Regions from separate parts of the Homo sapiens genome. Here all the other regions are reported to be linked to region 1. Evidence: microRNA targets listed by miRTarBase, many of them from high-throughput screens and not tested one by one. Region 1 holds a microRNA gene; each other region holds the end of a gene's coding sequence.
The links. Region 1 holds the annotated microRNA hsa-let-7a-5p (UGAGGUAGUAGGUUGUAUAGUU, at 2,798-2,819, shown strand). A microRNA usually pairs through its seed, bases 2 to 8, with sites in the 3' UTR of a target mRNA and lowers its output. Matches are read on the target gene's strand: a 7mer-m8 pairs with bases 2 to 8, a 7mer-A1 pairs with bases 2 to 7 and ends in A, and an 8mer does both.

Region 1 (7,276 bases):
CCAAGATCACACGGTTGCACTCCAGCCTGGGTGACAGAGCAAGACCTCGTCTCTAAAAAAATAAAAGTAAGGACAGTGCTGATTCATGGGAAATATTTTGGCTTATAAAGGGCCTGACGTTAGGGACAAGTGTGTCTGTGAGTTCCTAGTTTGCATAACCTGGCCTTGTAGAATTGAAATGGTCTCAAATGTAGTATAGTTTAGTGATGCAGTACTGTCTCTAATTTGGGGCAAGTTATTAAGCTTCTTACCACCAGTTTTCATCTAGAGATGATGAAGTAGTTGGACCTTACATATTTTGGATATATGGTATTAATAAATCTTTCCCTTTTTGTTACAGACGTGTTGATACTGCAGCTAGGAAAGCTGAGGGACTTCGGCTAAATTTCTTTTGCAAGATTTCAATGGCAGAGAATTAGTAGGGCCAGGATTTGAACCCTGGTTTTTATTGACTCCAAATGAGTAATGCTGTGAACATTCAAATACACGTTTTTTCAATTCTCTTGCCCTTTTTTTTTGCGGGGAGGGGCAGGGTCTCACTCTCTTGCTCTGACTGGAGTGCAGTGGTGTGGTCATAGCTTACTGCAACCTTTAACTCCTAGGCTCAAGCAATCTTCCTGCCTCAACCTCCTGAGTAACTCAGCTGGGACCATAAGCCTGCACCACCACACCCAGCCATGTTCAGTTCTCTAGAGTATATACCTAGAAATGGAATTGCTGGGTCATATGGTGAACTGTTTTTTACTCATCACTAACCAGTTCTGACACCAACAATCAATTCTTCAACTCGACACCAACAGAGTGTCCTACAATTAAATTTAATTCTGAAACTACCTGAAGTTAGTACAAACTTCACAGGTTGAGGGCTCAAACACGTAAGACTGCCCCCGCTTCAGATGCAGGTTTCTACCTGAATTTTTAACCAACCAGCTATAAATTAGGGGGTTTCACAACCTCTTCCACTGGGTCTATAATTTGCTAGGATGGCTTACAGAACACAGGAAGACACTCATTATCACTGGTTTATTATAAAGGATTTAAATGAATAGCCAGATGAAGAGGTCCTTAAGCTGAAGTCCAGGAGGGTTCCTAGCACAGGAGCTTCTGTATCTATGGAGTTAGGGTTACACCAGCCTCCTGGCATGAAGATGTGTTTTTCAACTCAGAGCTGTCCAAACCCTGACACTTAAGGGGTTTTTATGGAGGTTTCATACTTAGGCATGATTGATTACATTATTGGCCTTTGATGATTGGCTTACTCTCTGTCCTCTCTGCTTTACCTGGAGGTTGAGGGGGTGAGGCTGAAAGTTCCACCCCTCTAATCACACCTTGGTCTTTCTGGTGACTATCCCCCTCCTGAAACTACAGGAGCCACCAATCGACTCAGTAGCATTAAACAGACATTCATCACTTAGGAAATTCTGAGGGTTTTAGGAGCTGTATGCCAGCCAGGATCTTCAAATGGAGACAAAGACGAAATACGTGTTTCTGATTCCACTTAACAACTGTTTGACTTGTCTACAAGTTTTGTTCTCCAAAGCAGCTGCACCATTTCACATTCCCACCAGCAATCTAAGGGTTCCAATTTTCTCCGCATCCTTGTCAACACTTTTATTAATCTTATTAGCCATCCTAATGAATAATGTATCTTTTCATGTGCCTGTTGGCCATTTGTGCTTATGAGTCATATCTTTGGTGAAATATCTATTAAAATATTTTACCATTAAATTAGGTTGTTTTAAGTTACTTTAATGTGTGTTTTGCACACCAGTTTACAAAGAATGCAGATCCATTTTTTTTGCATGTGGCTATACAGCCGTCAGCATTATTTGTTGAAAAAACGATTCCCAGTTGAATTGTCTTGTCATGGTTGAAAATCAGTTGACCCATGTATGGGTTTATTTCTAGACTTTAAATTCTATTATATTGAGCCGTATGTTTTTTATTACGTTTTGTAATTTTAAAAATTAGTGCTTTTGGTTACTAAATCACTACAAAATAAATTTAGTCCCTATCTTAAAAGATAATCTTCGTAGTAGCTACCTCCTAAATATGAAGTCTGTAAATTAAAGGGTAATAATACAGTTTAGATTACTTGGGTTTATTAAAGATTTTGGACTCTGCCTTCAATCCACATATTACCTTTCTATCTAAAGGAAAGGATCCTGACCCTGAATCAGATCCAGGTGATTATCTTTGATTTAGTCCTAATAAGACCACTTAGTGTTTGCTCGCATGGGATAAATGAGTAGGTTCCTTTAAAAATTAGTTTCTATTTGTGTGTGTTTTTTATATTATCTCGTTGTATGTTAGTGCATTTGGATTATGCATGATGTACAGGACTTTTGGGTTTTGAAGTCATTGGATTTTTAATTAGAGGCTGTCATGTTTTTCTGTAATGATTTTTTGTTGTTTCTTGAAGGATAAGTTATTTCATGCATTTTCATTTGTAGGAACTGTAAGAAAACCAGCAGTTAATAATAGTAAAAGGTGGTGGTAAGAGGGTGATTTCTGAATCTTGTAAATACATGGTTTTAGGAGCGGATTCAGATAACCAAGCATTTAAAATACTATTAATGAAATACAGGAAATGAAACCACAGCATAGATTATGCATGTAGCCAAAATGTTCAGTTAAACTTCATTTTCAACGTAAGTGAATGAAAATGGTCTAATACTATTTTTCTTATCACTCACACAGGAAACCAGGATTACCGAGGAGGAAAAAAAGCCTTCCTGTGGTGCTCAACTGTGATTCCTTTTCACCATTCACCCTGGATGTTCTCTTCACTGTGGGATGAGGTAGTAGGTTGTATAGTTTTAGGGTCACACCCACCACTGGGAGATAACTATACAATCTACTGTCTTTCCTAACGTGATAGAAAAGTCTGCATCCAGGCGGTCTGATAGAAAGTCAGTTAACTAATTGTACAATATTTAAGATTAACTTGTCTTAAAGAGATGTAGTGCAGCATTTGTTTATGGCCTGGAAATAAATTAATTTAGAGATAAAGTCTGTAGCAAGTACACTGGATGGGGGTGGGGAAACCTTTTGCTTCTTGTCTTATTTCTCTGTGTCAGAATAAATGTATTTTTTTATTTTGATTTATGCTGATAATTTTATGTTGAAATTTTCTTTCGAAAGAGATTGTACTTTCCATTCCAGAAGAAAACATTGCTCTATCAGAGTGAGGTAGTAGATTGTATAGTTGTGGGGTAGTGATTTTACCCTGTTCAGGAGATAACTATACAATCTATTGCCTTCCCTGAGGAGTAGACTTGCTGCATTATTTTCTTTTTATTTAGATGATATTAAAACTCAGAAGAATTAATTTTGACATTTTGTATTTACAGTTTATCAGTTAATTTTCTCTGTTCAAGTAGTACAGTAGGCACAGATTAACATTTAAATTTTTCACATATGGTATATTTCAGAAATTTGAAGTTAAGCAAAAATTTTAATGAGTAGAGAAAGTAAGTAGCCTTCAGGAAATCTTCATAGAGGACCAGGCCCTTTTGGAATTGTGAATAGGTTTATTGCCTTACATCCTGGTACACATGTCCAAGGTCAGGTCCTGGGTGGTAAAGGTAAATACAAATTGGAAGGGCACTGTGTGAGCCAAAATGAGTCAGATTAGTCATGATTCATTTCCAGTTTGGGTTTTGGGTGGTCTTGGAGAATGTTGTAAGCACTGCTTCATTGATAGGTTGATTGAGCCAGACTTTACTCAGCAGCCTGGAAAAGGAGAGATGGGCTCTGGGTTCTACCTTTGCTCACTGGTAAGTTGCTAAGATTTCAGCTTTGCCCTCAAACCCTGAAGTAGTCCTTCATTCACACAGTGGGATCACTCGAAAATGTCAGATGGGGAAGTCCATAGGTTGTTACTTTAAAGAAAATAGAAAAAATGCTGGAAAAGGTTTCTTCAATTTTAATACCCATGAAGGCCCATGTTTTAGCTTTCCTCCGATGGGCAAACCATACACTAACTTGGGCCTTGTAATCAACAAGCAAGGCTAAAAGCTCTCTAAGTGCTTGCTGTTTAAACTATTTTGTGTTGGAAGAAGAGTTGGAAAAGAGGCAGTGTGGAGGTGAGGGAGAAGTTCCCTCCCTCCAATCATTTCCAATAAATGGAAATTTAAGGAGAAATTTGTGTTTATCCTTAATATCTAAGATAATCACTGTGCAGTGCCATTGGTACTTTTCATGAGAGTAGAAACATCAAACTTCCTTGGATGGGCCCAACCCAGGTGACTTAACTCTGGACCAAATGTATGCTTTTTGTTTTATCCACTGTGGACAGCTGCATAGATAATTGGTCTTTGTTCTAAACTGCACATAAAAACATGGGAGAAAATGACATTTGTTGCCTTTTGATGTGCCAAAGAAGAGTGGGAATGTTCTAAGAATTCTTTTTGGCTTAATCTTTGTTGAATTGAAAATATGTATAACTCTTCTGCTGAAAGTGTAGCAAGTACAGTCATGAAATTTTGTGGTCTTCCTGACATGTTCTTCCAGCATAACGTTGCCACCTTCAGTTGGAAACGTATCCTTATCTAATAATTAAGCCCTGGAGAAAAATTAATTTATATATTTTATTAATTACATAAGGACATTGTTATTAGCTAAGCAGAGTAAGTAAATCGAAATAAAACTTTAAAAATGCCTTTATGGAGAGAATGACTATCTCTGAAAGCTTGTTTTTAATGATGATAAAATTCATGATCAGAATTTGTTTCTGTTTGCTTTAATTCAGGGGTCAAAAACTGAAATACCATCAGAGGCCCAGGAGGGGCTAGTTGTAACTGGCAAATATAGTAAATTAATTTGCTCTGGTTGATAGGTAGCAAGCAGGGTTTATATACATTGTCACCTACTTTTCCAGTTAACAGGAGAGACTGGAGATTTTATGAAATTTGATATTTAAATGTTGGTAACTGGGTTGGGCACCATGGCTCACACCTCTAATCCCAGCACTTCGGGAGGCTGAGGCGGGTGGAGCACCTGAGGTCAGGAGTTAAAGACCATCCTGACCAGCCTGGTGAAACACAGTCTCTAATAAAGATACAAAAATTAGGCCGGGTGTGGTGGCTCATGCCGGTAATCCCAGCACTTTGGGGAGGCCAAGGTGGGCGGATCACCTGAGTCAGGAGTTTGAGACCAGCCTGCCTAAATGGTGAAAACCTGTTTCTACTAAAAATACAAAAAAGTAGCTGGGCGTGGTGGTGGGCGCCTGTAATCCCAGCTACTCTGGGGGCTGAGGCAGGAGAATCACTTAAACCCAGGAGGCAGAGGTTGCAGTGAGCCGAGATCACACCACTGTACTCCAGCCTGGGTGACAGAGCGAGACTGTCCAAAAAAAAAATTGATAATTAAATGTTAAAAGTCAGCGACTCCAGTAATACGTGGTGGGCTGAGTATTAGACTACTGGCTTACATCCTCTGATGTCATTACTTTCTTGTTCGTTTGTGACTTGAGGTTGGATTTTAAGCAAATGTATTTGTGGCTTTTTACCAAGGTCATATGGCCAGATAACTTTTCAAAAGCATTAGTTAAAGAATTCTGATTAGTTTGAATTAGAAACAAAACTCAAAGAACATGACCTAATTTAACAGGTTAATTTGAAGTGCATCTGCCAAGTAGAAGACCAGCAAGAAAAAAAAAATGGGTTCCTAGGAAGAGGTAGTAGGTTGCATAGTTTTAGGGCAGGGATTTTGCCCACAAGGAGGTAACTATACGACCTGCTGCCTTTCTTAGGGCCTTATTATTCACCGATAACCTGTTTCCTTGCTACTTTGCTTTGGTGTAAGCAGAGTTCTTTCTGTAGGTTTTTTCAAATGAAAACATTGCAAGAATATCAAAGAGAGCAGTGTTTGCGTTAGTGATTATAAACTGCAGCATGGTGCTGACATTGATAACTGAAAGTCAACTAATGAGAATTTGAGACTTCTGAAGTACACTTAGTTGCTAGTGTCTCCCTTTTGGTGTCACTGGAAAGTTTAGAAAGCATGGTTTTGTTTTTGCTCAGGTTTCTCTTTCTGTGATGCAGAGACTCTCAGCTGTTCCTCCTCTATGTCTACATTATGTCTGAAGGAAAGAATTTAACAAAACTTGAAATACTGCTGTTTTTCTACAATGTTTGTAAATATTTATCTTGCTGCTTTTCTAGGTTTGTCTTCTGGATTTAAAATTTGGGGCGGCTGGGGTGGAATTGCATGGTTTGGGAATGGGTAATTGAGCTGCTGCTCATTATGGTATGTAACAGTGATTTGTCTGTTTAATATGTACAAGAACTGGAAGGTCAATAAAATGAAAGTGGTTGTCTTGACTGGGTAATAGTGTTACATATTTTGTTAAAAGTTATACATCTTTTCAATAAAAACACTGCATACTTCAAAACTAGTGCTTTTTAAGTCATCCTTAACCCTTATCCCCATCCTTGCAGTAGTAGATGCATTTTTCATTTGTAATTATTATGATTTGTTCTTAGTTTCATTTTTCATTAGCAATAATTTGGTGATTGGATGGTCATTTACAGATGTTTTAATAAAGCTAACACGAGCAATTTCCAGCTCTTCCATTTTTGTAAACACTTGTGTGACTTTGTACAGACAATTAACTGCTCAGGATCACCCTCCTTTTTGTTTTGTTTTTGAGATGGTCTCATTCCGTCACCCATGCTGGAGTGTAGTGAAATGATCACAGCTCACTGCAGCCTTGACCTCCCGGACTCAAGCTTCCTAGTAACTGGGACTACAGGTGCATACAACCATGCCTGGCTAATTTTATTTTTGTAGAGACGGTTTCACCATATTGCCCAGACTGGTCTTGAACTCCTGATTATCCTCTGGCTTTTACCTCCCAAAGTGCTGGCCAGGACAGCCTCCTTTCTTTACTTGAGTAATTATTTGAGTTTGCTCAGGCAGACACTACCTTGTAAAAACTCTTATGTCTCATTTCACTAGTCTAGTTTGAGCATTTATCATTCTAGGAATGAGACGAATTTGTGCATTAGCATTCCATCTTTTTCCAACTACTATGAACAGTAGTATTTTTTTTTATTTTATTTTATTTTTTGAGACAAAATCTCACTGTTTCCCAGGCTAGAGTGCAGTGGTGTGATCTCAGCTCACTGCTGCAACCTCCACCTCCTGGGTAGAGTAGACAGGATTTAGGTAATTTTTTGTATTTTTATTAGAGACAGGGTTTCACTATGTTGGCCAGGCTGGTCTTGAACTCCTGGCCTCAAGTGATCCACCGGCCGTGGCCTTCCAGAGT
Region 2 (7,276 bases), not on the chromosome of region 1:
TCTTTGAATTGTATTAATGTGTGTTATTTTTATTGTTGCTAAGTTTTATGTAGCTATATGGTTCATATGTATATATAATTTTATATATCAATAAGAGTAAAGACACGGGTACAAATTAAGAGTTATATGGTTTTACAAGTATATGTTAACCCCTTGGCGCTGGCGGTCACGGTGCGTCTCATTGCCGGCAATGGAAGTGTGCCGGGAAATCCCAACTCCCGGCGTCAAGGGATTAAAAGCAATAAAAACAATAATTTCACTAAAATTCTTTTGTGTAACACTTGGTCTTTTTTCCCCCCTCCCAATGTTTTAGTCATTGAGAAGGTCAAAACGAAATTCAGACTCTACGGAGTTGGCAGCACAGATGAATGAAAGTGTTGACGTCATGGATGTCATCGCTATTTGCTGTCCAAAGTACAAAGATCGACCACAAATTGCAAGAGTAGTGCAGAAAACCAGCAGTGGCTTCAGTGTTCAGTGGATGGCAGGCTCCTACAGTGGCTCCTGGACTGAGGCTAAGCGCCGTGATGGCCGCAAACTGGTGCCTTGGGTAGACACTATTAAAGAGTCAGACATTATTTACAAAAAAATTGCTCTAACGAGTGCTAATAAGCTGACTAATAAAGTTGTTCAGACTTTACGATCCCTGTATGCCGCCAAGGATGGGACTTCCAGCTAATGAATTTGTACATGCAGCCAAATTTACAGGAATTTTTTTAAAAGGCAGAAAAACTTGAAATACCAACATTCTGGCAAAAAAAAATCAGTTTTATGAAGAGTAAGTGGAACCTGGGATGCAGGAACAAAAGAAGGAAATGTTGGGCAAACATTTTTGTGGGAGCTCCCTTCGCTGTTGTGCAGCAGAAACAGATTCTCAGTTCATTTTTACTCCCACTGTATTATAGTTTAACAAAAATTGTTTATATCTTGGAAAAAAAACTTTCTGTTTAAAAAAAATAAACAAGTGAATGTTGGAAATTAGTCTGTTAATGTTCTTAATAAAGTGTTCTTGGAGTTTAACCTAGCAGCGGATGGCTTTCTTTAGCTTAGCCCAGTTTCCAGGGAAGCATTGTTTTTTCCAGGCTGTAAAATGGCAGAATCTCCTGGATATATAATTTATTCTGTTGAAAAAAAAAAAAGCATGCAGTATCTATGACCTATCTGCAGAAGGAGTTTTTGTAAATGTAGATTTTGATGTATTAGGTCACCCTGAAAACAATACAAGAAAAGGGATCCCCAGGTAATCTGGTGGAGCGAATACTGCAATAAATTTTTTTACTTCTCTTTGTTACTTGTCTGTTTCCATTTGAATTTCTTATTGTAAAAATCTGTTTAAATCCATTTATATTATTTTACAGTCTTTTATGTAAAATTTATTATATCACTGGTTTTCAAAGCAAAACATAAAATATTGTTTATACAGTTTGTATAGGCTGACTTCTGAATAATTGGTATCTATTATTTTCATTCCCATAAGAGGGTGTAAACAATTAACTCCAGGGTTTTATTGTATCCTGCAATATTTAGTATTAACTATATATGATTTAGCACTGTGCCAAACACATTTTCAAGAGTACATTTTGATATAAAAAGAAACTATAGTTTATTCCTTGTATGCTTCAATTTCTTTCTAGTGATGTCATGATGCTGATATTTATTCTTTAAACCTCGGGTAAAGGTAACCTGTTATTTGGAAAACCAGCATTTCTCTTGGTTAAAATGATGTCCGGTTATTTTAGAACTAGAGTTGAGATGAATATGACACTTCATAATTACACTCACTACATTTTTCACAAATTATTTTTTAATGCTGAAAAGAGTAATTTTACTTGTTGAGATGTTTATTCATTTTCTAATCTATGCTAAAAGCTTTTATCATAAGTCTTGGGAACAGTTGTCATTTACACATTACTTACTGCAGATATCTTGACTAAATCAGGAGGGAGGTGTTTAATCATTTGATATGTATAGTTGACACTCAGGAATAGTAATGCCTAAAATTTACAGTGGATGAGGTCTGTTTCAAGTTTAATTCTTTTTAAAAATGTTTTACTTATTTTTAAATCACTTTGAAAAAATTGACCTCCAGAATGCTGTTTTATGAAATTGGCAAATAAATGAAGGTATTCAATTTTTGAGGAAGAATGACATTGCCACAAAATACCTTTTTGTGACACCTATTAAACCACTATGAAAATAACTTTTCAGGATCTATTTCCTATGTGGAATTCTTTCAAATGCTTTCTTCACGGAAATGTTTTCTCACTCTTCGTTTTGTTCCCCTTACTTACATGTTTCTCTTTTCCTTATACTGTGAACTCTGGAACAAAACTAGATTGGGTTGGTTGGTTGGTTGGTTGGTTCTTCTTGGAGTTTATGTATATCAACAAAGGATTTGAGGTCACTTCTGAGAATAATATATCAAAAAGGGTACTGGTTAGAGAAAATATAAGAATAAAATCCAGCCCAGAGAGAGTACTAAGAATGTAAATGTGAGTAAAAAGCCAGTTTTGAATTCTATTTACGTGACAGTGATGCATGCTGTCATTTAATTCTCACAAAAACTCTCGTTATATATTTTATCCTCATTTTGTAGATGAGGATAGCAGGCTTAGAAGGATTTGGTAATTTACTAATGTCATGATAGGGATTTAAATCTGGAATTGAAGTAATTGTGTCTCACTACTCTAAGCTAATTGAACATCAGACATTAAGAGAGATGATCCTTATTGAAGTAAACCAGTTCCTAAAGGATCCTTGTAGTATACATACTTGGGAATCCTGTTCAGAGTAATTTTTAGGAAGTAGGTACACAGTAGTAAGTCTTCTGTTGCCTCAGTTGGCCATAGATGGAATTCTGTGTTTGCCACTCATTAGAAATTTAGGAATTTTAGGCAGGGCACGGTGGCTCACACCTGTAATCCCAGCACTTTGGGAGGCCGAGGCGGGCAGATCACCTGAAGTCAGGAGTTCAAGACCAGCCTGACCAACATGGGGAAACCCCGTCTCTACTAAAAATACAAAATTAGCCGGGCGTGGTGGTGCATACCTGTAATCCCAGCTACTCGAGAGGCTGAGGCAGGAGAATCGCTTGAACCCAGGAGGCGGAGGTTGCGGTGAGCCGAGATCACGCCATAGCACTCCAGCCTGGGCAACAAGAGCGAAACTCCATCTCAAAAAAGAAAAAGAAATTTAGGAATTTTAGGAATCAGTTTTGAAATTTTGTATATATTCTAAGCTCCTATTTTATCTGTTAATAGAAGCCAAATGTTAATATAAGCCTTAACTCTTAAATATACAAACCAAAATTTTCAGAAAGTTGAAGATTCTTCAAGATGAATTGTTAGGTCTTAACACTATTAAAGCTTTGGCAGTCAAATATACAAAATCAAACTTTAAGTATATTGGGGATTCACAAAGTTCTATTAAGTATTTAGAAAGTTCAGTCTTACTCTATAGTGTGTTGATTAATTACCATAGATTAATCTTGTTATATTGACTTGAAAAGATAGGTTATATTTGATATAAAAATTTTCAAGTATCTCTTCACTTTTTAAGTACATTAATATGAAATTTTAGCCTTATTGAAATTGTTTATTAAGAAAGAATGGCTAGTTTTAAAAATATGTTCATACCAAAATACACATGGCAGAAAATTCAGTGATCTCTAGAATTTTCTAGATGTAGTAATCTCTAATGGAAGAAATGCTGAGTTTTTTGAGAGAAATATATAGCTTACTCTGTTGATAGGTTGAGTATTTGAATTATTCAGGTAACTGAAGCACACAGGTGATTTTTATGACCATAGTCTGTCTCATGAAAACAGGTAAGTCAAACTGATGTTTGTTCAATACAGATTTCATGATCAGCAAGCAAATTTACCGTATTTTTATTTAGAAATAAATTAACCAGGGAAGTATGTGGTTCTCCCTCCCCTACCCACCACTTTTAGTTGCACAGAAAAATTCATCCTTGTCACTACCTGTGTCCAGGTGGTCTGCATCTTCAGAACTGTGGATATGGATAATTGGAATAAGATTACTTTTGCAAATATAAAACTCATCAGATTACCCACTTGAAATAATGTAATTTGAAACACTTGATAGTAATTTTTGCCCCATAAAAATCCTACGTGTTTGAACCTTTTGCTGTTTGCCTTGCTCATTTTAAAACCAAAGTTTGTTTAGTCCTATAGCTAATGTTTGTCATAGGCAGCATTTGTTACAAAATGATTTTACTAATTTTTCACTTGAATTTTTTTCTGAAATACAGTCTGTCCTATTGGTGCTAGCCGAGAAACAATTACATGCAAATTTAGTGTAATAGAAAGTCACTGACCAAACAAATTCAGTTTGGTACTCTGTTGACTAAGTGGTCATAAAGTTCCTGTGTGTTTTGCATGATGATGTGAGTACCAAGCCACCCTTCGTTTTTAAGACCCCAATTGTATATGGCTTCACTGCTGAGAGTGGTACGGTGTACACAATTATTTTTCTTATAAGAATTTTGTAAATTATTTTTACTTTAAGAGAATCTCCATTTACCCATTCCTCTGTTTCAGTCATTCTGAATTTCTGACCAAATTTATTTGAGCTGTACTCCATGCACCCCTTTCCACTCTTTCTGAAACAAGTCTCAGGCATCATTTTATTTTATCCATAAATAGGTTATCTTTTTTTTTTTTTTTTTTTTTTTTTGAGACGGAGTCTTGCTCTGTCGTCCAGGCTGGAGTGCAGTGGCCCCATCTCAGCTCACTGCAAGCTCCGCCTCCCATGTTCACACCATTCTGCCTCAGCCTCCCGAGTAGCTGGGACTACAGGCGCCCGCCACCATGCCCGGCTAATTTTTTGTATTTTTAGTAGAGACGGGGTTTCACCATGTTAGCCAGGATGGTCTCAATCTCCTGACCTCACGATCTACCCACGTCAGCCTCCCAAAGTGCTGGGATTACAGGCGTGAGCCACCGTGCCCAGCCCCATAAATAGGTTATCTTTAAATATTCTTCCTTGATATCAAATATCCAGTAAGTGTTTAAATTTTTTATTTTCTCATAAATGTCATATTTTTTAGGTCCTTTCTGTAGGCTTTCTCATGTCTTTTTATTCCTTGCAAATTTCTTATATTGAAAACACAAGTATTTTTCCTTGGGTTCTTAAGTAGATTCTAGGGGCTGGGCGCGGTGGCTCATGCCTGTAATCCCAGCATTTTGGGAGGCCAAGGCGGGCGGATCAAGAGGTCAGGAGTTCAAGACCAGCCTGGCCAACATGGTGAAACCCTCTCTCTACTAAAAATACAAAAATTAGCTGGGCGTGGTGGCACGCACCTGTAGTCCCAGCTACTTGGGAGGCTGAGGCAGGAGAATCACTTGAACCCAGGAGGCGGAGGTTGCAGTGAGCCGAGATTTCGCCATTGCATTCCAGCCTGGCGACACAGCGAAACTCCGTCTCAAAAAAAAAATAAATAAGTAGTTGATTCTAAATGGAGAGTCTAGTTGTTTTCTGATTTTTAATCAGTTTTCTTACCTGAAGTTATTGTAGGCTTGAGAGATATTGGATCTCTTTCAAATTCATAAGTAGCTTGAGCCTGTATAACTAGAACAGAGTACCACTACAGAGGTAATGAAGTACGGAGATAGGTCCACTTTTCAGGAAGATGGTGATAAGCATTGATTAATCCTTTGATTTGGAGTTGGCAAATAACCAAGCAGGCAGTTGGAGATAGAGATTTAAAGTAAGGAAATGGAAGCTGAACTAGATGCCAGAGGATGCCCTATAATCAGAGTTCCTTTTGTTGGTCAGTAATTTTGTAATACATACTGCTTGAAATAAGTTGACTGCAGGCTATGATTTTTTTAATGATACAGCTTTCAGGGTGTTACAGTTTTTGTTGAATGGAATTTTGCCCTTTTGTGACTTTTTTCAGTCATTGTTTAAATCTCAATCACATAGAACTTAAAATGAAAAGTTAGTGTTGCTTTATCAAACCCTTTACATTGACCTTTCTTCTGCTAAGAAATACCAGAGTAAGCTTTTCTTGATTATAACATGCCTAGAATTGTAATTTAGCCTTAACCTTACTAGATTTAAATCCTGGAGCAAAGAACAGAAAAAGGTTATTATGGTCTAAGTTTGTTATAAAATTTAAACCAATAATGGATCTCCAATTCCATAGTTTTAAAAATATTTATACAGTCATATGAGAGATGGCAAATAATCTGAAGTTTTTAATCACTTTGGAATTTACTAACCCCTTTGAGAATATAATGAAAGCCGAGAAATCTCTCTCCTTAGAAAATAGAATAAGTTCATATTCAGAATTGTGCATAAAATTTCAAGGGGTTCATGGACATCCCCATCCCATTTCCGTCTTTGGCCTATCTTGGGAATCTATGGAATGACTACAGGTTTAAGAAGGTGAAATTAAGGCTCAAAGAGGTGAATTGATATCACCAAGCTGCATACCTACTTATTGCTAGAGTCAAAAGCAAAACTGGGTTCTTATCTCCCATAAGGAAGATTTAACCTTGGGAAGTTCTTATTCAGTCTCCTGTTAAGATCTGAATGTAGGCTACTTAATGACTAAATTTTACTGATTTTTTTTTCTATACCTTTTCAAAAGATCCACGTTTTGTGTTCTCAGATTTTGTGATGCCTACCATCCTATTAGGTAGAAAAGGGAAAATGTGATATTTTATTGTGTTTTAATTATTTCTACATCACCTGGCTTGATGTAGAAGACTAAAACTTAGGTTAGTGAAAAAGAGTATTAACTTTGAAGTCAGAAGACATAGTCATAGCCATAGACAAAGCCATGGGTTTCTGAAACAAGTGTGAAATGAAATGTAAACAAAATCACTTAGCTTATTTTGTGGAAGCTTATTTAAAGAAATCTATACTTAGGTTTTGTGTAGACACATTAGAGAGAGAGAATCAGAATGCTGGGTTAAGTGGGGAGATGGGGGATGGAATTCTGAAAGTGGGAGCAGCATAGTGAGTAGAGGAGCTGGCGTGCGTGTAGTACAATGTCAAAAGATGAAGCCATAGAAAGGAGAGATAAGTATGCAATTTTGATAACTTTAGTAATGTAGTAATATAATTTGATCATTTTAATGTATAGGCAGTTGAAGGGCTCAAGGGATTGATGAACGATCACTCTGCTACATAGGGGAAAGACAAGGATGTCAAGAAGAGGACACTAATGCAATAGTCTCAGAAATAGAGACTGAACTAGGAGGATGATGGCAGTAGGGATGAAGATTGGAGTGATCTGCAAATGT
Region 3 (7,257 bases), not on the chromosome of region 1:
AAGAAATGAAGCCTGATTATGTGTTATGACCTGGATGAACCTGGGAAACATTATGCTAACTGAAAGAAGCACTGTATGATTCCATTTATAAGAAATATCCAGAACAGGCCGGGCGCGGTGGCTCACGCCTATAATCCCAACACTTTGGGAGGTCGAGAAGAGTGGATCACTTGAGGTCAGGAATTCAAGACCAGCCTGGCCAACATGGTGAAACCCCGTCTCTACTAAAAACACAAAAATTCGCCAGGCATGGCGGTGCGCGCCTATCATTCCAGCTACTCGAGAGGCTGAGGCATGAGAATCACTTGAACCTGGGAGATGGAGGTTGCAGTGAGCTGAGATCACGCCACTCACTCCAGCCTGGGCGACAGAATGAGACTCCGTCTGAAAGAAAAAAAAAGAAAATCCAGAACAGGCAAATCCATGGACAGAGAAAGATCAGTAGCCGCCCGGGACTGGTAGGGTTGGGGAGAAATGGAGAGTGGCTTCTAATGGGTACAGTCTTTTGGGGGTGGGGAGAGAATATGAAAATGTTGTAACATTGATTGTGATGGTTGCACACTCTGTGACTATACTAAAAATCACTGAATGGCACTTTCAGTGGGTGAATTAGATGGTATGTGAATTATATTGCAGTAAAGCTGTTAAATACACACCCACTCACACACACACGCCCGCACACACACGTAACTCTTCTCTGCATCACCTTCAATGGTTCAGCGCACATTCTGTGCTTCGGTCATCATCTATTAAGGCGGGTTCTTCTGTAATCAGGGTATGCAGACTTAATCTGTTATTACATTTCTTCATGCCAGCCCTTATTGGCTTAAAATATATCTTCCACACTCATGTCGATCTTTCAGAATCCTTAGCAAAACGCATGGATAACTCCCTGGTATTTTCACAGGTTGTTGAAGCACTTAGAAGTAAACCACCTAGGCCCCATCTCTCTCTTTCTCTCTCTCCCTCCCTCTCTGGATAACCCAGAAATGTGCACACAAACCTTTCAGCTCTTATTCCACCCCTGCCTTCTGGTGGAGGTGGAGGAGGGCTACTGCATCTCACACTTCAGCCTGGTCTCATTCCTCATCGTCTCACAGGATTCACCCTTGCCACTTCAGTTCCTGGGGTCTCCTGATGGGAAACAGGGGTAGCAAAGGCCAGAAAGAAGCACAGTGGAGGATGGTTTCCTGAACCCTCCCTGAAAACCAAAGTGGCTGAAGGAAACAACAGCAGACCCATGAGAAGCAAGGGGCTTTTGCCTGTGTGCAGTGGCTCGCGCCTGTAATCCCAGCACTTTGGGAGGCCGAGGCAGGTGGATCACTTGAGGTCAGGAGTTCGAGACCAGCCTGGCCAACATGGTGAAACCTCGTCTCACTAAAAATACAAAAATTAGCCAGGCGTGGTAGCACGCACCTGTAATCCCAGCTACTCAGGAGGCTAAGGCAAGAGAATCGCTTGAGTCCGGAGGCAGAGGTTGCAGGTTGCAGTCAGTCAAGATCGCACCACTGTACTCCAGCCTGGGCGACAAAGTGAGACACCTCAAAAAAAAAAAGAAGAAAGGGGCTTTTGAGAAGTACTGCTAAAGGACCACAATTCCCCTCATGGCACATGTAATCTAAGGAATTCAATAGAACTTTGTTATTTGGAAATTATTTTTGTTTTTCAACGGAGCCCTCAGATTAAACCACACGGCTGTTTTGTAATCTCATGTACTGAAAGTTTACACCTTAAACACATCTCTTCTTGACATGATTCCCATAATCTTATATATATGTGGTCCTCAGGAGAAAGCAGCCAGAATTGCCGTGGGCTTTGGCTTAAGAAGACAGAAGGGCAAAGCCACAGGTGGTAAAGTCATGATTGTTGAAAGGTTCTATATGATAAAGTGTTAAATTTCCTCAAAGTCATAGGATTATGGAACTCTCTTCTTCATGCTTACCTGCACTTTCCAAGTTTTATCTGAACAATGAACATCTAGTAGGTAAATCACTAATGAAGCTTCCTTGGTGCTAGGGCCACACTTGAGTGCGACTGAATAGTAGATCCTGGGGAAAAGTATAGTAGAACCAGAGAATAGAATGTCTTACGTCAGAGTATATTGAGGTTTCCAGCAACCTAAGCTTGAATCAGAGTCCCAGCCTCTGTGAGTTGGTCTCAAGGCCCATGGTCCGTGCTCGCTTCCAGCTCCAGCTTCCCGCTTGGGAGAGGCCTTGGTTTCCATGAGCTGAGCCTCTAGATTTTGGAGAAGATTTTCTATGGACAACACAGACCCAATAACAAAAGTACTATGGGAGGAGGCTAGATCTGACTTCTAAACCTGTTCAGTTACCAGAGAGATCAGTAACTCCCTAACTCATAAAGGGAGGGATGGTTAAGCGAACTAGAAATATTTAGACTGAAGACTTAGAAGTGGCCAACTATCTTCAGAATGGTAGAGGGTAAACACCTGGGAGAGCCGTAGGGGACAGCCCAAGGATACCCCTCCGTGAAGTTAGAGGGAGGCAAGTTTCTTGGTTTAGGAAGATTATTCCAACGACCAGAGATGCCCATCTGTGAGTAGACTGCCTCCTGACACCGTCCCACCTTCACCAGAAGCTGGATCTCACTGCTTCAGATGCTCAGAAAGCCCTTCAGTTATCAGGAAAGGGCTGGACCAGGTCATCCTTGCCATCTCTCTACCCTGACCTCCCAATTCCACAGTACAGGGCTCCTTACACCGATTTCAGTTTATTTTTATCAGAGCATGTTCCCTTACAGTCCCCAGGCTAACATGCAGCCCCAAAAAAAGCACTATTTGATTCAGTGAACTGTTGACTGCCAGTCACTGATCCGGAAGTGTCTGTTTCTAGAACTCAGTGTTTAGCCACTGCCACACCATTCAGGGGCTGCTGCCCTCTTGTGGAAATGAAGAATACGACTGCTTAGAAAAGAAATTAGATGCATTTGGAGGCTATTGTCTGTACACACATTCCCATCTTACCTTCCCCTAAAAGCTTAACATTTTAGTGTGAGCCCTAAGCTTAACTTTTTAGTGTGAGCCCTGAAGTTCCTAGGTCCAGACAGTCAGGGCCTTTGGTTTACATTCACGCTACCATTCTGTCCACCAGGATATGGAACTTTAGCCACAATACAAAATCCTGGTTTCTAGCGAGATTGACATTTGTGAAGACCATTTTGATGTGTGGAGTGGCCTTTGGATGTTAACATTGTGCTGTGGGAAGAGCACTAGCCCACGCTTAAAGACCCAGGTTCCAGCTCGTGTTCTGCCATTCCCTTGTGACCCTGGACGAGTCATTTTCCAGTTGCATCTGTGGATAAAGGGCTACATGACCACTGGTACCTGGAACGCTGTAATTTATTGGATTTAGAAAATGCTCTAGGAGTTTAGAGATGAAATTCTGTGGAGAACAGTGGCATATCACATGTGCACTACTTGTAGCTGCTAACCACAGCAAACAGCCACGGGCTTGATTCTAGGTTAGGCACCCTCAGGCTCCTACAAAGGAGACCTAGGCATTGTTCATGTGTGCCTCAGCCTCAGGGATAGCCATGGTCAGATGCTTTGCTTTTCCCTTAAGTAGAAATGTGGCAGACTGTTCAGGGAGGGTCCCACAATTCCTAGCCTTCACACGTGTCTGAAAAACACTTACTAAGTTTTCTGGACGAGTTTTGCCACTAGCTCAGGATACAAAGCTCTGTGACCCATTAGTGACTGGAAGTGATTTCTCATTGTTTCCAAATATCAGTCACCCGCTCCTTGTTACCACTGCAGGGCTTCATATGGAGGAGGGGGCAGCTGGGGACACCACAAGGTTTGCCTGAGTGTGAGGCAGGTGTTCAACCCCAAACTGGAAAAATGGCTTGAAATAAAACTACAGTTGGTAGCTGAGTAAGGAACATGACTGTTTCATTTTAAAAAAACCCACTTCCTTCTTAAGTTTTCCCACAAAGGATAATTTTCCCTCAAGAACTGCCTTGCCAAGTATTTCTTGTTGTAGTCTCTAAATGCTATTTTAAATGTAGTCTGGGGAACTATTTTCCGTTGGCTCCTAATACTGAATTAAGCTAACTTGCCCTTATGATAGTAACAAAAAATTTCAAGAGCAGAGGATGCTTTGTTGACCTCAGACGATTTGTACCCTCACACTTGCTGAAAATAAAACATCTTAGCGAGGTATTTATGACATTAGTCTGAAAACATTTTTTCACTTACATGAAATCTTACACAATGAAGTGGCAGTCAACTGCAAGAATAAATGCCGAATGAGTCATTTTAGTTAGCCTGACCTTTGAGGACACTTGGCTTCGTAGCAGGTCTTTTCATTAGGTCTTATTCTGGTATAAAAAGGCTCCTTCAGAAAATGTTTTCACTAAAAAATAAGTTACAAACTAACAAGAGTGCTATATAACCAACAATTCCTAAGTATTATGTAACAGTAATAAGGCAAATTCATCTTAAAAAAGGTTTACTAGTAACAGTGGCCTGCTATGGACCAGGCACTGTCCTAGTGTTTTACACACAAAAATCTCCAGTCCTTACAACAACCCTAAAAGGCATACAAGCAGACAAGCAGACTCGAATTTGTTGAATGATTAAGCAAGGCCATATAGTACTGGTAGAATCCGAAAGAGAACTCAGGTCTACCCAGTTCTTCTTATGATTAAGCTTTTTCCTCTCCATCTCCTGAAAGCTGCCTTGAACTGGAGTGGGGAGAAATGGGAGGCTCCATGACAGCATGCCCTGTGCTTTCACCAGGTTTCTATATATACAGGACATCCATGTGAGATTTTATGTGAAACAGGTTTTGGCTTGCTTCAAGCTGTATTTCACTATTTAGCACCCTCTTTTGCTCACAGCAGATGGGCTCTAGAGGTCCTGACTAGGCCTGAAATGAGGAACGCTGGGGAGCACCTGTAGGAATGCTCAGCCCTGGATCAAACTACAGCATGCTGTAAGGGACAGTACCAAAAAGAATGACAAGGGCAGTGTGGAAGCCATGTCCCTGCAACACAAGGGCTGGTTCCCAATCCTGGTTATGATGCTCAGAGCTGTGAATTGAAGAGATGTGTGATTACATATTTGCTTGTTGCTTTCCTCGTTAGAAGATAGAGAGTCACTTTAGTTAAGGTCCATTTAATTTAACATTTATTTTCATTTTATATCCAGATGTCACATTTTCTACATTAAAATATAATCATGCTGACTCCCCCAACCCCCAGCCCTCAGAGAAAAAAGTGAAGAACTTTACACAACATGAAAGATGGAATGCACGGGGTAGGGAAGTTGCTATTGCACCCAAGTAACAAAGAACACAGAGAGACCAACAGGACGCATGGCAGAACTGCATAGAAGATCGCTCAGGGCTCACGTCAGGAAGGCGCAGGAATTCAGAAAACTCTAAAGCTTGGAAATGCTATCGTTTGTGCCACAAAGATTACCCTGAAAAGGTAGAGAGAGGTCAAAAAGCAGAACCAAATTGGGGATTTTCAAAGGCTGCTCTCTAACAGAGTTTAAAATATCCGTAAACATAAGTGCTTCTGCTCCCTCCCCTTGCCTTCAGCATCTGGTAAACACTTTAGAAACTTAAACCACTGTTAGCATGTCAGAATGTAGAAAGGCTGTAGGTTTTTCTTTCTTCTCATCTTGTACCCCAAACAACAACTCTACTGGCAATTGTAATCATGTGACTCCTCTGCTTGGAAACCCAGTAAGGATCACCAAGACAAGGGGTCTCACTGCTACCAGACAGATACCAGCTGTGCAAAAAGTTGCAGGATTCTGTGTATTATTTGGAGAGGGAGAGCTGTAAGACACAGGAATCCCAATACGTAAGTACTAAAGAGAAAAAGAAAACTCCTTTCACTCATCTATTCATTATATAGGAAAGAGCAAAAAGACAGTCAAAACCATCTGCTTCGAGCAGCAGCACAGCCCAGCAATACAGGCATACCAACAAACCGAAAGCAAACACTCAGGAAAGAGCCTCTTGGCCCTTCTCAAAGGAGACTTCTCTCAGACTGGATCTTGCCCCTAATGTAGAGACCAAAGCATTATAACTTCAGAGACTGGTACTCTTGAGGGAGTTGAGAGGTAAGGTCTAAGAGACCCAAATAACAAGACTGTTATCAGGTAACTAACTACTCCACTATGTACAATACATACAGCAATAAGAAAACGCCACTCCATCCCTGCAGCACTTTAAACATAGCACTGAGGACCCAGGTAGGGGGATATTTTAAGGTCTGTTAGCAGTTTAAAACGTTGCAACACTGGCACAATATGTTACCTATTCTTTGTTTTTAATTACAGGGTAACATGGTAAACTCCAACACAAAGGTGGGAACCGAGAGTGCAAAAGGAATAAAGAAAACAGAACCAGTATTTCACAAGAGCGCGGAGCAATGCAGAAGCAGCAGCTAATGCTTTGCAGAGTCTCGAGGGTAAAATTCGCTGAGGGTGCTCTGAGGGATTCTCTTCAGCATTTCTTTGGGGAAGATTCGGAGTAGCTGCCAGCCAATGTCCAAAGTCTCAAAGACAGTGCGATTTTCGTAAGGACCTTAAAAAATTGAGATTGAATTAATAAATGCAAATGACTTCCAACTTAGCAGTGTTATCCAGTATGTATTGTTATATGACTAGCAGTGTATTAAATAGATATTGAAAAAAAAAAGTTGGGACTCCCAAGACTAAATGAGAAGGACTGAGGAAAAGAAGGCACAGACAGTGAGTATCATAAGGAACCAGAGAAGAGGGAAGAGGCGGCTGGGCTGAGACAGGGAGCAGTCTTGCGGGAGAGGATGGTGAGACAGATCTGAGATTTGACAACTGGGTAGGATACTTGAGCAATGGAAACTAGAATCAATGTTTTGTCCAGAGATTAGTAAGAAAAGTCTCCCTAGCACAGAAGGTTCACACAAAGAGAAAAGGCTGAATTTGAAGGCGACTAACACAGATGCTCAGAAGGACATAAATGCCAGTCAAGCACCTGAATACATGCAACCCTCTCCAGAGTATCACTATCTGAAGGTCAGTGGTTTCCCAAGTTGTTAAAATTATTTTTGATGGCAGAATCATCCTTATCCCCACAAATAAATCTTATTCTTTGAGTCCAAGGCTGGAGGTCTGGGTTCTTTTCTCTAGAGGAAAACTTTATTTTGTTTAAGATATTCAGGTTCTGCATTAAAAAAATTCCAATAATCATGAATATTTTGGGGATTTGAATATTAATAATGTATCATATAACTGGAAAGGTG

Region 2: miRTarBase lists NIPBL as a target of hsa-let-7a-5p. The part of its 3' UTR that is shown has no 7-base or 8-base seed match.
Region 3: the mRNA of ATP6V1B2 is a reported target of hsa-let-7a-5p. The part of its 3' UTR that is shown has no 7-base or 8-base seed match.

The regions. Positions count from the first base shown.
Region 1 is chr9:94,173,165-94,180,440 of GRCh38, forward strand. It overlaps MIRLET7A1 (microRNA let-7a-1), which reads left to right and starts at 2,793; the gene lies at 2,793-2,872. MIRLET7A1HG (miRlet-7a-1/let-7f-1/let-7d cluster host gene) reads left to right here. Exons shown (of 5, transcript NR_170278.1): 2 at 2,701-2,801; 3 at 6,656-6,757. It overlaps MIRLET7F1 (microRNA let-7f-1), which reads left to right and starts at 3,183; the gene lies at 3,183-3,269. It overlaps LINC02603 (long intergenic non-protein coding RNA 2603), which reads right to left. Exons shown (of 3, transcript NR_160773.1): 3 at 3,405-4,567. It also overlaps MIRLET7D. RefSeq lists an enhancer at 6,081-6,130.
Region 2 is chr5:37,064,214-37,071,489 of GRCh38, forward strand. It overlaps NIPBL (NIPBL cohesin loading factor), which reads left to right. Exons shown (of 47, transcript NM_133433.4): 47 at 314-2,200. The coding sequence ends at 679. Among named protein-coding and RNA genes, the nearest start is that of CPLANE1-AS1, 180 kb to the right of the region's middle.
Region 3 is chr8:20,219,566-20,226,822 of GRCh38, reverse strand. ATP6V1B2 (ATPase H+ transporting V1 subunit B2) reads right to left here. Exons shown (of 14, transcript NM_001693.4): 14 at 5,127-6,560. The coding sequence ends at 6,421. Among named protein-coding and RNA genes, the nearest start is that of ATP6V1B2, 26 kb to the right of the region's middle. RefSeq lists an enhancer at 2,570-2,669.